Homo sapiens: one gene and its partner. The protein of the gene in region 1 interacts with the protein of each later gene in a biochemical or structural test. Each region holds a gene or a part of one and is shown on either strand. Other genes may lie near its edges. The genes, in order: CACNA1H and USP5.

Region 1 (3,446 bases):
TGCCGTGACGAGGGTCGTGGTGGCATGGGACTTGTGTCTGGCAAGGTCTCCCATCCCCCCAGTGCAGGGCCTGGTGCCCCAACCTTCTCTGAAGCCTGTTCCCCCCACCCCAGAGCCTCTGCCACCCCCGTACAGCCTGCGGGAGGTGAAAGTCTCCGTGGTGGACACAGAGACCTGCCGCCGGGACTATCCCGGCCCCGGGGGCAGCATCCTTCAGCCCGACATGCTGTGTGCCCGGGGCCCCGGGGATGCCTGCCAGGTGAGCCTGCCAGGCCGTGACAGAGGATGGGGGCGGCTGAAGCCCAGGGAGGGGCTCCCCATCTTCTCGGCTCCCAATGCTCGCCTTCTCTGTCCTCAGGACGACTCCGGGGGGCCTCTGGTCTGCCAGGTGAACGGTGCCTGGGTGCAGGCTGGCACTGTGAGCTGGGGTGAGGGCTGCGGCCGCCCCAACAGGCCGGGAGTCTACACTCGTGTCCCTGCCTACGTGAACTGGATCCGCCGCCACATCACAGCATCAGGGGGCTCAGAGTCTGGGTACCCCAGGCTCCCCCTCCTGGCTGGCTTCTTCCTCCCCGGCCTCTTCCTTCTGCTAGTCTCCTGTGTCCTGCTGGCCAAGTGCCTGCTGCACCCATCTGCGGATGGTACTCCCTTCCCCGCCCCTGACTGATGGCAGGAATCCAAGTGCATTTCTTAAATAAGTTACTATTTATTCCGCTCCGCCCCCTCCCTCTCCCTTGAGAAGCTGAGTCTTCTGCATCAGATTATTGCAACATTTAACCTGAATTTAAAAGCACACGAAACAAAGGTGTCAATGGGAATCTCGCGGCCAACGCCCCCAGATGTAGGGGAGGCCTGATTCGCATCGGGGCCGGGCGCGTTACTCCATGGGGTCGGCCCCTTAGTGAGGTGTCACCTCTCCCAGAGTCACAGGACGCTTCTGGGAAGGCCCGAGCGGAACGGAAAGGGTGGTGGCTGGAAGGGGAGGGTGGTGAGGGCGTGACAGGCGGACAAGAACTCAGACTGTGAGTGAAGGTGACATTGGGCCGCGGTGGCTGCAACCTGCCGCCGGCAAGGGCACAGGGCCCCCAGCGAGTGTCCTGTAACAACGCGGGGCCTGAAAGGACGCAACCTGGTACCTTCCCCTCTCTGGCGGGTGCCCGGTCTTCGTCCCACAGACGCGGCTTCTCTCCTGACGGGAGGCTGACCCAGTTGCCCGCACAGCCTCGGCTGGTAGCAAAACTCGGAGAAACCCGAACCAGAACGGACGGAGGCTCGTGGGGCCCGGCAGCTACTCCTGCTTCGCTGGGCAGAGAACCAGGGCCTGGGCCGTCATCCTCCCCGGGCCTTTCTGCTCACGACGGGACCCAAGTCAGGGTCCATGCAGGGTTCTGCCTGGGCCTCCACCCCAGCGGGGCCCCCAGACCCCAGGGCCAAAGCCGTGGGCGGCACCAAGCCCCGAGCTACACGGGGTCATCTGCACCACCCCCTGGGGCAGGGGTGGCTGAGGGGGACCCTGGTTTCTCCAGAGGACACTGGGGGACTGTGAGGTACAGCCCCCGCCTCTTCTCTGGGGGGTCACCGACGGGCATGGGAGGCTCTGATTCTGGGGGTTCCAGGGGCACTATGGCCCCTGAAGAGGAAGCTCTGGATTCTGGGGTCACACTGTGGCTACCGTCCAAGAAAGGGTCTCCACTGGGGACCCCGAGGTCCAGCGGCTCAAAGGCAAAGCTGGGGACGGTCAGGTGCTCAGCCCGGCAGGAGGCCTGGCCCCAGCGCTCCCCCTTGGCTGCAGGGTCCCCCCCGGCGCCTGAGCCCTCTGTGGGCTCCAGGGAGTCCCTGTGAGGCGTGGCCTCACAGGACGGGGTCCTGCGCCTCAGTGTGGTGCTGCCGCCCTCTGCCGCGGAGGGCCGCGCAGAGCCCTCGTCCTCCGCAGGGGGTTCCACCGAGATGCAGGGGGGGCTCATCTTCTTCTTTCTGCGCGCACCCAGAGCGGGCTCGGCCTCAGGGCCCCAGGCCTTCGCCTCCCCAGGCTCCCCGCTGCCCAGCTCCGCCGAGGGCCGCCACTGCTCGTCTGCCCGGCCCGGCTTGTCCAGGAAGCCCTGAGCATCCACGCTGTAGAGCCTGCGCAGGTCCCGCTCGCCGCCGGCCACCGGAGAGGCTTCGGGGCCATGGGGCTCGGCTGTGGGCTGCCAGGGGCAGGCGGAGCTGGTGATGTGGCTGACCTCCTCGTCGGCTGGGTCCGAGGCCTCGGCCTCCTCTCCGCCTGGGGCCGCCGGCCGGCTGGAGACGCAGCGCTGTCCGAAGGTATGCTTACGAGTGCGGACGCTGGCGGGCCGTGGGGAGCGTGGTGGGGACTGCAGGGAGCCCCCCTGGGTCACCGGCCTCACCGGGGTTTTCTCACCAGGCTCTGCAGGATCCAGGGTGTCCCTAGGGCTGTCAATCTTCCCTTCCAAGGAATCGGTGTGCACAGCCTCCTGTGGGGGCGTAGAGTCAAAGTGAGGGGCGGGGCCCTGGGAGAGCCCTGTCAGTGGCCAGGGCTCGGAGACCCCTCACCATCCAGGTACTGGAGAGGCCAAACTGGGCAGGTCCCCTGGGTGGCTCCTGACCCTCGAGATGGGGCTGGAAGCCGCTGGTGTGGACGTCCTAGTCTCACTCCTGACCTGTGAGGCTCCCGGGGAAAGCCTGTACCCGCTGCTCTGTGGGCAGAGATGCCATGGCCCCCAGGGGCACAGAGCTGAGGCTGAGGCCACCTCCCCACCCCTGGACATCAGCAGCCCAGCTGGGCACCCCCAGGATGGGGCTCTCCTAACTGCTCCTGTGCGGTACAGGCGTCTTGTACTGGGCAGCAAGAGGTAGGAAAGGGCAGGAAGAGGAGCTGAGGCTGCAGGTGGGCAAGGCTGGGACATCTGAACACAAGCCAGGACTGAAAAAGCCGCTGTCTGCCCACCACGGGACCCATGCCCACATGGGGCCTGAGAAACTGCCATCTGCCCGCCGTGGGCCCTGGGAAACTGCTGTCTGCCCACCACGGGACCTGAGAAACCGCTGTCTGCCCACCGTGGGGCCTGAAGCTGTGGGTCCAAGAAGACTCAGGTCCCTGTAGCCAAGAGCTCTGTAGCCACAGGCTCACAGGCCTGAAGACGCACCTGGGCCCAATGCTCCAAGATCCACCAAGCAGCAGGCAGAAACCTTCGGAGCCCCAAGGACCCAGTGCGACCCTCCTCCTGCCTTGTCCTCGTCTGCTGGTCCTTCAGATGAGACGAGGCATCCCTGCAAGCCCCCCATCCCCGCCAGCCTCTGCTGCAGGCCAACGGCTTCTCCTACCTGTCTGCAGAGCAGCCGGCTGAGACTGGGGGAGCGGGCTGTGCCCCGAGGGGACAGGGCGTGGAGGGGCTCGCCGCTCCTGGCTGGGGACGACACAGCCAATGGGATCTGGAGGGAGGCAC
Region 2 (8,003 bases), on another chromosome or scaffold:
AAAAAGACCCAGGTCCCATTTAAGGGCAGTAATGTGTTACAGGTGCTGTGATAAAGGCTGGGTACTGGATAGCTTGTGGGCTTATGGGAGGAGGCCTGAGATGGGTCAGGGGGAGAAGGTATTCAGCAGGTGGCTGGGGGACTGTGTGCAGCAGTTCGCTATGGCCTGCCTGTGGTGCCCATGTGTTTGTACGGGAGGGTTAGCTTGAGAAGGAATCAGATTATAAAAGGTCTTGAATGTCAAGCCAGAGAGTCCAGACTTTTTCCTAAGGGCAATGAGAAGCCATTGAGGAGTTCTGAGCAGAGTAGTAACATGATCAGTTATGCTTCTCAGAAAGATTGCTCCAGATCTTTCAGAAAGAAGCAGTGTAGGTTGATGAAAGGGAGGGACTGGCACTGGGGAAACAAGGTAGGAGGCAGGTGGCAAGAAATGCAAGAGCGACAGGACAGAGGGGTTAGGGAGAGGGATTAGGAAGAGATTAAAGATGTGGAATCAGCTGGAACAGTGGCTCATGCCTGTAATCGCAGAGCCTTGGAAGGCTGAGGCAGAAGGATCTCTTGAGGTCTGGAGTTTGAGACAAGCCTGAGCAACATAGTAAGACCCTGTATCTACAAAAAAAATTAAAAATTACCTGGGCAGGCTGGGCATGGTGGCTCATGCCTGTAATCCCAGCACTTCAGGAGGCTGAGGCAGGCAGATCACTTGAGCCTAGGAGTTTGAAACCAGCCTGGGCAATATGGCAAGACCTCATCTCTATAAAAAAAATACAAAAATTAGCCAGGCGTGGTGGCTCATGCCTATAATCCCAGCTACTGGAGAGGCTGAGACAGGAGAATCGCTTGAGCTCAGGAAGTTGAGGCTGCAGTGAGCTGTGATCGTGCCACTGCACTCCAGCCTGGGTGACAAGAGCAAGACCCTGCCTCTAAAAAACAAGCAAACAAACAAAATGTGGAATCACCAGGATTTAGTGACCAAATGCTAGGATATAGGACATTGGGAGGGAAGGATTCGAGATAATGGCCAAGGTTTGGGTTTGGTGGCTGGGTAGATAATGCTGTCATTCACAAGGATAGGGAAGAGGGAATGAGGAATAGCTTTTGGGGGAAGATCATAAATTCAGTTTTAGACAAACTGACTTTGAAGTACTTATAAAGCAGCTGGATAAAGGTCAGGGTTAGAGAGAGAGACCTGAAAGTTACCAGAATATAGGGAAGTGATAGCTAAAGCCCTAGAAGTAAACACCCAGGGAGAGCAGGGCCAAGGACAGAGCCATAGGGACACCATGGTTAAAGGGAGATGTGCAAAGAAGGCTCAGAGCATCAGTGGGCTCAGGCCAGGGAACGCAAGCTCTCTAGGCCGCCATTCTACACACAGAAAACTCGGTGCAAGGTTTACATATACCTTTTTAAAGTAACATTTAAAATTACTTCCTTTAATATAAAAGAAACACACAAGACACAAAGAAAGCCCAATAAAGCTGTGAGTCCCAGTTTGGTAGCTGAGGAGGAGTCTAAGAAAACAAGCCATTCCTCAGTATCCCTGGGAAAGAAGGGGTGAGAGGACACAGATATCACCAGGCCCTGGGTGACTGCATTGCTGGGGCCATGCAGGGCCTAGCTCTCCACCAAGGGAAAGTGCTGATTTTCCTTGTCATGGTCCTGGCCTTGCTCCCATGCTCGTCCTCCAGTTTTCAGAAGTCGTCCAGTTCCAAGAATGGCTCCTTCCTTTAGTTCACTAACATTTTCACTTAGGGGTGAAGGCCGCTTACCCTGAAAACGGCAGTGTATGAGTTGGGGGGAGTTGCTGTTCAGAAGAGGGAAGATCTGGGTAAAAGGGTCTCCCACCCTCTACGTTGGATATCCTAGTAACAGCTTGCACTTTCTCTTCCTTTACCTGTCGTAGTGTCAGGGTGCCAGGGGAGTTGTCATCCTGCAGGATGGTGAGGGGGGATCTCCCTAGTACCTTGCTGCTGTTTGGTTTCCATCTATTGCGCATAGAACCTGGGGTGGGTAAGGCGTTAAAGCAAGGACCCAAAACTAGGACTTACAGTTTATTCCTCCCACACTCACCCATGGACCTTATCCCAAAACATTATCCTAGTTTATCTTCCCTGCATCTTGCCTTAGATTCTGTACCTGAAGATCTGGGAGTCTCAGGGTCCCTTGAGGGCTTGTCGGAGCTCTGGCTGGCCACAGGGGTTTCTGTGGGCTGTCTTGCTTCCTCCTTGGAAAACACCTGTTTGGAGGGGAACTCAGTCTGGTTCCAAGGTGGCATCTGTTCCTCAACAGATAACTGGGTACCCAGAGGCAAGTCCAATTCAGAAGATAAAGGTGCCTCTGGGGGCAGAACAGGCTCTGGGGGAAGATTTGATTTAGAGTCTTCAGTTTCAAATACTTCACTCAGCTGTTTCACCAGTGGGCTTGGGGGGTCTAGAGGAAGAAAGTGAAGTGAACAGTGACCTTCTGATACACAACATTCAGCAAGGAGCAAAACATACAGAAACCCAGGACTCATGCCCAGGAGGGTGAGCAAGTGGGAAGAGAGAAATCAAGGAAATCAAGGTGAAAGGGAGCAATTTTTTTTTTTTTTGAGATGGGGCTTGCTCTGTCCCCCAGGCTGGAGTGCAGTGGCGTGATCACAGTTCACTGCAGCCTTGACCTTGTGGGCTCAAGCAATCCTCCCACTTCAGCCTCCTGAGTAGCTGGGATCACAGGCCCATGCCACCGTGCTTTTGTGTGTGTGTGTGTGTGTTATGTGTGTGTATTTTTTCTAGAGATGGGGTTTTGCCATGTTGCCTAGGCTGGTCTTGAACTCCTGGGCTCAAGCGATCTGACCACCCCGGCCTTCCAACGTGCTGGGATTACAGGCATGAGCCACCGCACCCAGGCTGGGAACAAAATATTGAGATAAGAGTGAGATGGGTCCGAAGCAGGAGGATAGAGGCCCCTTTAAGGAACCCTGAGAGAATGGCTTCATGGACCCTACCCAAGAATAATAGATGACAGCTTCATCAGCATTCCCTGGGCCCAACGCTTACCTCCACTGCTGGTCTTCATAGGTGTCCGTGCAATACCAAGAGTAGGAGAGCGGGGATCTGAGTCCTGGGCATGTTTAAGACCCTCCAGTTGCTCCCCTGCTGGTAGGCCTGGCTGTGGAGAGCTCTCCACCTGTCAAGACCATAGGCTAGAACAAGTCTGGGCCCTGACTCTTCTCTCCTCTCCTCCCCATATTCCAGGAAGGAATTGCCAAGGCCCTCAGATATCCAGCCTACCCCACACAGATTGAGATTGCAGAAAATAAGGCTAGGATAAGGGTGGGGTCATGACGGCTCTCTCAAAATCAGGTTAGGAAGAGACCCAAGAATTCAGACATTCTCTGCCTTTCCCACGCTGGCCCAGAGTACCTGGATGGGAGTGCGCAGGATGCCAGCACTAGGTGAACGGGGGTCCGCCACTCGAGCCAGATGCTTGTTGTGCGGCGGAGGCCGCGCTGGTGTGACTGGGACGCTCTTGGCTGAGCCCATCTCAACCAGGAGTTGCAGGGTGGGGGCAAGGGCCAGCCCGGGACGAGGAGGGAATGCCTGTGAGAAGTGACTCAGGTCTCAGCCCTTATCTCTTCCACGTCGGACCTTCAACCCTAAACCACCCTGTCTTCCCAGTTTCCAGTGAAGAAACTTCCTGGCGAGGGACCAGAGGCCTCTGCGGAGTTAATGACTGCTGCAGCTGACAAAATGGCTCGTTCTGGGCCTGCTGAGCCCTCTAACTTATTTATTAAATTATTCAAATCACTTACCGGGCCCCAATTCCACCTCTGGATGCACAACAGCTCGTGGCTCAACTCCCGAAGTTACCAGTTTCAAACTTCCCGCCACGCCCCCTGCCCTGACCCTATTGGCTGAGCCGACGTAGTTCCCATAGGCCCTCCACGTAAGACCCGCCTCGAGCCAAAGGAAGCTGTTGGTCTGGGAGAACGTCTATCATGGTGACTGTAGGTGTCAATGGACTGATGCTAGGCTTGCCCAGGGGTGACGCCTCCTTGATAAGGGTACTTCTGTTCAGTATCGGCCTGCGAGCCGTCCGTGGCAGGCTGAGGAGTGCCAGTCTTCGCTTTCGAGACGTCTAGTCTCAAGAACGAATTATTAAACAAAATAGAATCATGAGTGATTACACTATTATGCGCACATCCAGCTGGAGTTGTGATGGTTTTCCTGAGGCGAGCGATAGTAGCTTTATTGGTTGACAGCTGTATCAGTCACTCGACACAACCCCCTCAAGCTCCGCCTCACTGGATACCCCCTTTACAAATACCAAGACAACTGTCCCTCGACTTTCCGACCGGACAGGTCCCCAGGAAACTTTCTGGAATTGAGAGGCCTAAAACAACCGTCAGTTCCTGCTCTTCAATAGAAGGCACGCGAATGGACTCTAAGGGTCCCGGAGCCGGAGCAGCTGCGGAGCCGCAGCAGCTGCAACCCCGAAGCCCACCTAGCTGCTCTACGTGCGCTCCCGCCCTGGAGGAGTGGGATTGGTTCTTTCAACCATCAATTGCCTTAGGAGCGCTTCTCATTGGCGTCAGTCAAGCGCGGGGCAGGGGCGGAGCACCGGCAGGCAGGCTCCGTCCAACTGCCATTCTCGCGCGTCGTCTCCGCGGCGCATGCCCCTAACGAGTGGCGCTCATTGGACGGGAGGGGCAGGGGAGGGGACTGGGAACGGTGGGAGCCGCCGTGTGTGGAGAAGCTGCTGCCGGTGTCATGGCGGAGCTGAGTGAGGAGGCGCTGCTGTCAGTATTACCGACGATCCGGGTCCCTAAGGCTGGAGACCGGGTCCACAAAGACGAGTGCGCCTTCTCCTTCGACACGCCGGTAAGCCCATTCCCCACGCCCGCAACGAGCACGACTTCCTTCCATCGCCCTGGTCATTCCGCTGGGGCCTGCAAGGCTTGGGCTACCGCCTCCCTGCGATGCACCATGGGACTTGTAGTCTCCCACGCTCCACTCTGCCGTTGCCTTTCATTAACTGCGGCTGTCGTGTGACTACCGTCCCCGGAAGCCGCCGCGCTCACCTCTCCGGCTCCCCGCTTCGTGGAGCACTGTGGGCATTGTAGTCACTCACTGCCTTCGTTGCCGTTCTAAGCTAGGGGCGCAGCCCGACCGTCGGACTACATCCCCCAAGTGGACCCTTGAGAAAACCTGGCAGTCGGCCTTGTCTGCCGCGCACGGCTCTCCGGGTTTTGTAGTCTCGTGTAGGAGTGATGGGGACGACTCCCCACTGTTCTCGGCCGGGGTTGGAGTTGGGGGGTGGGGACCGCAGTTCCTAGGCGGTTAATAGTCTGGGAGTGGACTCTCAAGAAGTCCGATTCTGAGAAAGGCAGAGAGCCTCCACCCCGTGGTTAAAACAGACAGGGGGCGGGGAGGGGAGGAAAGAGGAGAGGAAAGCTCTAGTCGTTTCTCCTTTGAAGTGAGCAATGGCCGCAGCCCCCACCCTTCCCCCCGCCCCCCAGCCTATCACAGACAGCTGAGATAACCCCTTTTAAAGTATTCCTAGAGAGGTGGTTTCTTTCTCGGAGGATGCTAAGGCCTCTTTCCCATCCCGCTCCCACTCTTGGCTAGTTACACAAAGCCACCTCCCACACCATGCTTCACGTTTTGCAGGCTCCACCTGGTACCTCCCTTCCTGCAGTTCTGCCTTCCCTATGTCACCCTCAAGCGGAGGCCCTTTGGGGCCTGAACTGAGAAGGCAGCAGCTTGGTTGGGATCCGCCCCCCTCACCACCCCTCCCCTCAAGCTGCTGTGCCCTGCCCAGTGTATTCTGCCAGAACCAGCTCATGGCCTGAAAACTGCAAGTCAGAGTGGAAAGCCTTCATTACTGCATCACCAGTACTGAGTAGAACAGCATGATGTGAGGCCCAGTTCAGGATCATCACTGTGATTTGTGGTTTGCTTGGTTTGCTAGGCTTTGATCTGGGCCTCAGACAATGTGCTGCTTCTCTGAAGTCTGGCTTTGGCAGAGGTAAAAGAGCACTGCGCGGAGCAGAGCTCCGGGGTTCCCAATCCTTGGTGAAATCAGCATCTTTAATTTCCAACAGAGGAGTTTAATCACTTCAGAGCTCCCACATTCTTCCCAGGAGGGAAAGGTTTTTCTTAAATTACCAGCAGGTGGTAGAAGTCAGTGGGTCCCTCTTTACACTTTTATTCACTCCTGTCTCTCTCCTTAGTAACTGCTTTGAATAATCCAAAAAGGGTTTTTGTAATCTTCTGAAACTTTCCCTTTTTCACCCCAAGTCAAGAGATTTTCAGTGTGCCCTAGTTCTTTGCTAACCAACTTCCAGCATATTTGGTTACCTTCAAATTGGGCTCATGGTAGAAAGAGCTTAGTTGACCTCCCCGGTGAGAAATGCTCTATTTGTTCATGAACTTGCAGTACACACTGTTCCTAGGAAGTGGTACAGAGCAATCTATGGGACCAAGAACTACCTTAGACAGTGCACTATTTTTCATATCACAGCAGAGAAATGTTCAAGGCCACTGAGACTTTTATTCCTGGAAGAGGATGTCTGTTGTTGCTCAAAGCCTTGGATCTGAGGGAAGACCCTTATTGTCTCCAATTTCCTCCTCCACCTTCTCCATCACTCTTTACAAAGGCACTGGAAAACTTGGTCAGCTTTGGGGGAAGCCCATCCTCCCTTCTCAGCTGTGTTTCTGGGTGGACACCCGTCTGTCCCTGTTTTCACGGGTTATGTGTGTTCTAGCTATCTCAGCAAGTGTTGCGAGATTGTTGTCAGAACGGGATGGCTTTGAGATTGGTGATTTGTTGGGACTTCAGCAGGGATCTTATTGGTCGGAGGGGAGGCAGAGGAGAGAGGGTGGTGGCTATGGAATGCTGGACTTCATGACCCTGCCAGACTGGGTGCATGTTTAGCTGTGAGTCCCTAACAAGTCATTGTTCCCCTGGAAGCCACACTTCAGCAGGAGAGGAGGGAGAAGACTCACAGTGTGGACCAGGGTTCGACTACCTGGTAGAATGTGGTAAAAGAAAGGTCTTTTTCGCTGGATGTTTAGTCTCACCGCTGTAATCCCAGCACTTTGGGAGGCCAAGGTGGAAGGATTGTTTGAGGCCACACAAGTTAAAGACCAGCCTAAGCAACATAGCGAGACCCCACCTCTAAAAAAAAAAAAAAAAAAAATCTAGGCATGGTGGCATGTGCCTGTAGTCCCAGCTCCTTTGGAGACTGAGGCAGAAGGATCACTTGAGCCGGGGAGGTTGAGGCTGCAGTGAGCTATGATCGTGCCACTGCACTCCAGCCTGGGTGACAGAGTGCAGTGTCTCTAAAATAAAATTTTTTTTTTTTTTAAAGGAAAGGTAATTTTGCTTGCTGGCACACTCGGGTCAGATATACTGTTCAAGTGCTGGAATCTCTGCTCCTCTGGTCTGGAAGGTTTTCTGAATCATGGAGATGAGATAGGGTTTGTCTTAGGTGTCCCCTGGTTTGGGTTCAGTGTCTCACATGAAAGTCTTTCCTCTCCCACGAAGGGACCCTTTTTCCCTTTGAATGTAATCTCCAGCACTGGAAGTCCACAGTATTTGATCCCCATTTACTTTCTGGATCTGTTAGCCCCAGGATAGAGGTGAAGGAAGTCCTCTGTGATTGATTAAAGAGCTCCAAAGCCCAAGAAGGAGCAGGTGGAAAGATAAATGGTGACTGGTGTTGCTGTTGAATGGCGACGATGAGCTGGTGTTCCTCAGCCCCCTGATGTCCTTGTTGGTTGTTATCAAAGTCATGGGAGGAAATGGGGAGAATCTTAGCTATGTCCCAGGTCCTAAAAGGCTAAATAACTTGCCAAGGGCCACACAGTGTTAGAGAACAGAACATTTCTTCTGGAACCCAGCAGTTTCTGACTCCAGGTTTTGGTTTCCTCACCTGACCAGGCTTCATAACATCCTCGTGTTTTCACCCTTACCTCTTGTCCCACAGGAGTCTGAGGGGGGCCTCTACATCTGTATGAA

What was found.
Region 2: the proteins of CACNA1H (region 1) and USP5 form a complex in vitro, tested with the Homo sapiens proteins (2 studies listed by BioGRID, with this or other methods).

The regions. Positions count from the first base shown.
Region 1 is NC_000016.10:1,219,009-1,222,454, reverse strand, and holds the end of CACNA1H (voltage-dependent T-type calcium channel subunit alpha-1H), read right to left. Parts: coding exon 3,325-3,446; coding exon of another isoform or gene 3,147-3,324; intron 2,475-3,146; coding exon 1,461-2,474; 3' UTR 687-1,460; downstream 1-686. Other genes in the region: TPSG1 (tryptase gamma preproprotein), read left to right, coding at 114-259, 359-667.
Region 2 is NC_000012.12:6,847,430-6,855,432, forward strand, and holds the start of USP5 (ubiquitin carboxyl-terminal hydrolase 5), read left to right. Parts: upstream 1-4,720; 5' UTR 4,721-4,750; coding exon 4,751-4,861; intron 4,862-7,925; exon of another isoform or gene 7,926-7,971; coding exon 7,972-8,003. Other genes in the region: CDCA3 (cell division cycle-associated protein 3), read right to left, coding at 1,614-1,769, 1,894-2,000, 2,136-2,429, 3,038-3,167, 3,404-3,523. UniProt on the Homo sapiens protein: Deubiquitinating enzyme that participates in a wide range of cellular processes by specifically cleaving isopeptide bonds between ubiquitin and substrate proteins or ubiquitin itself.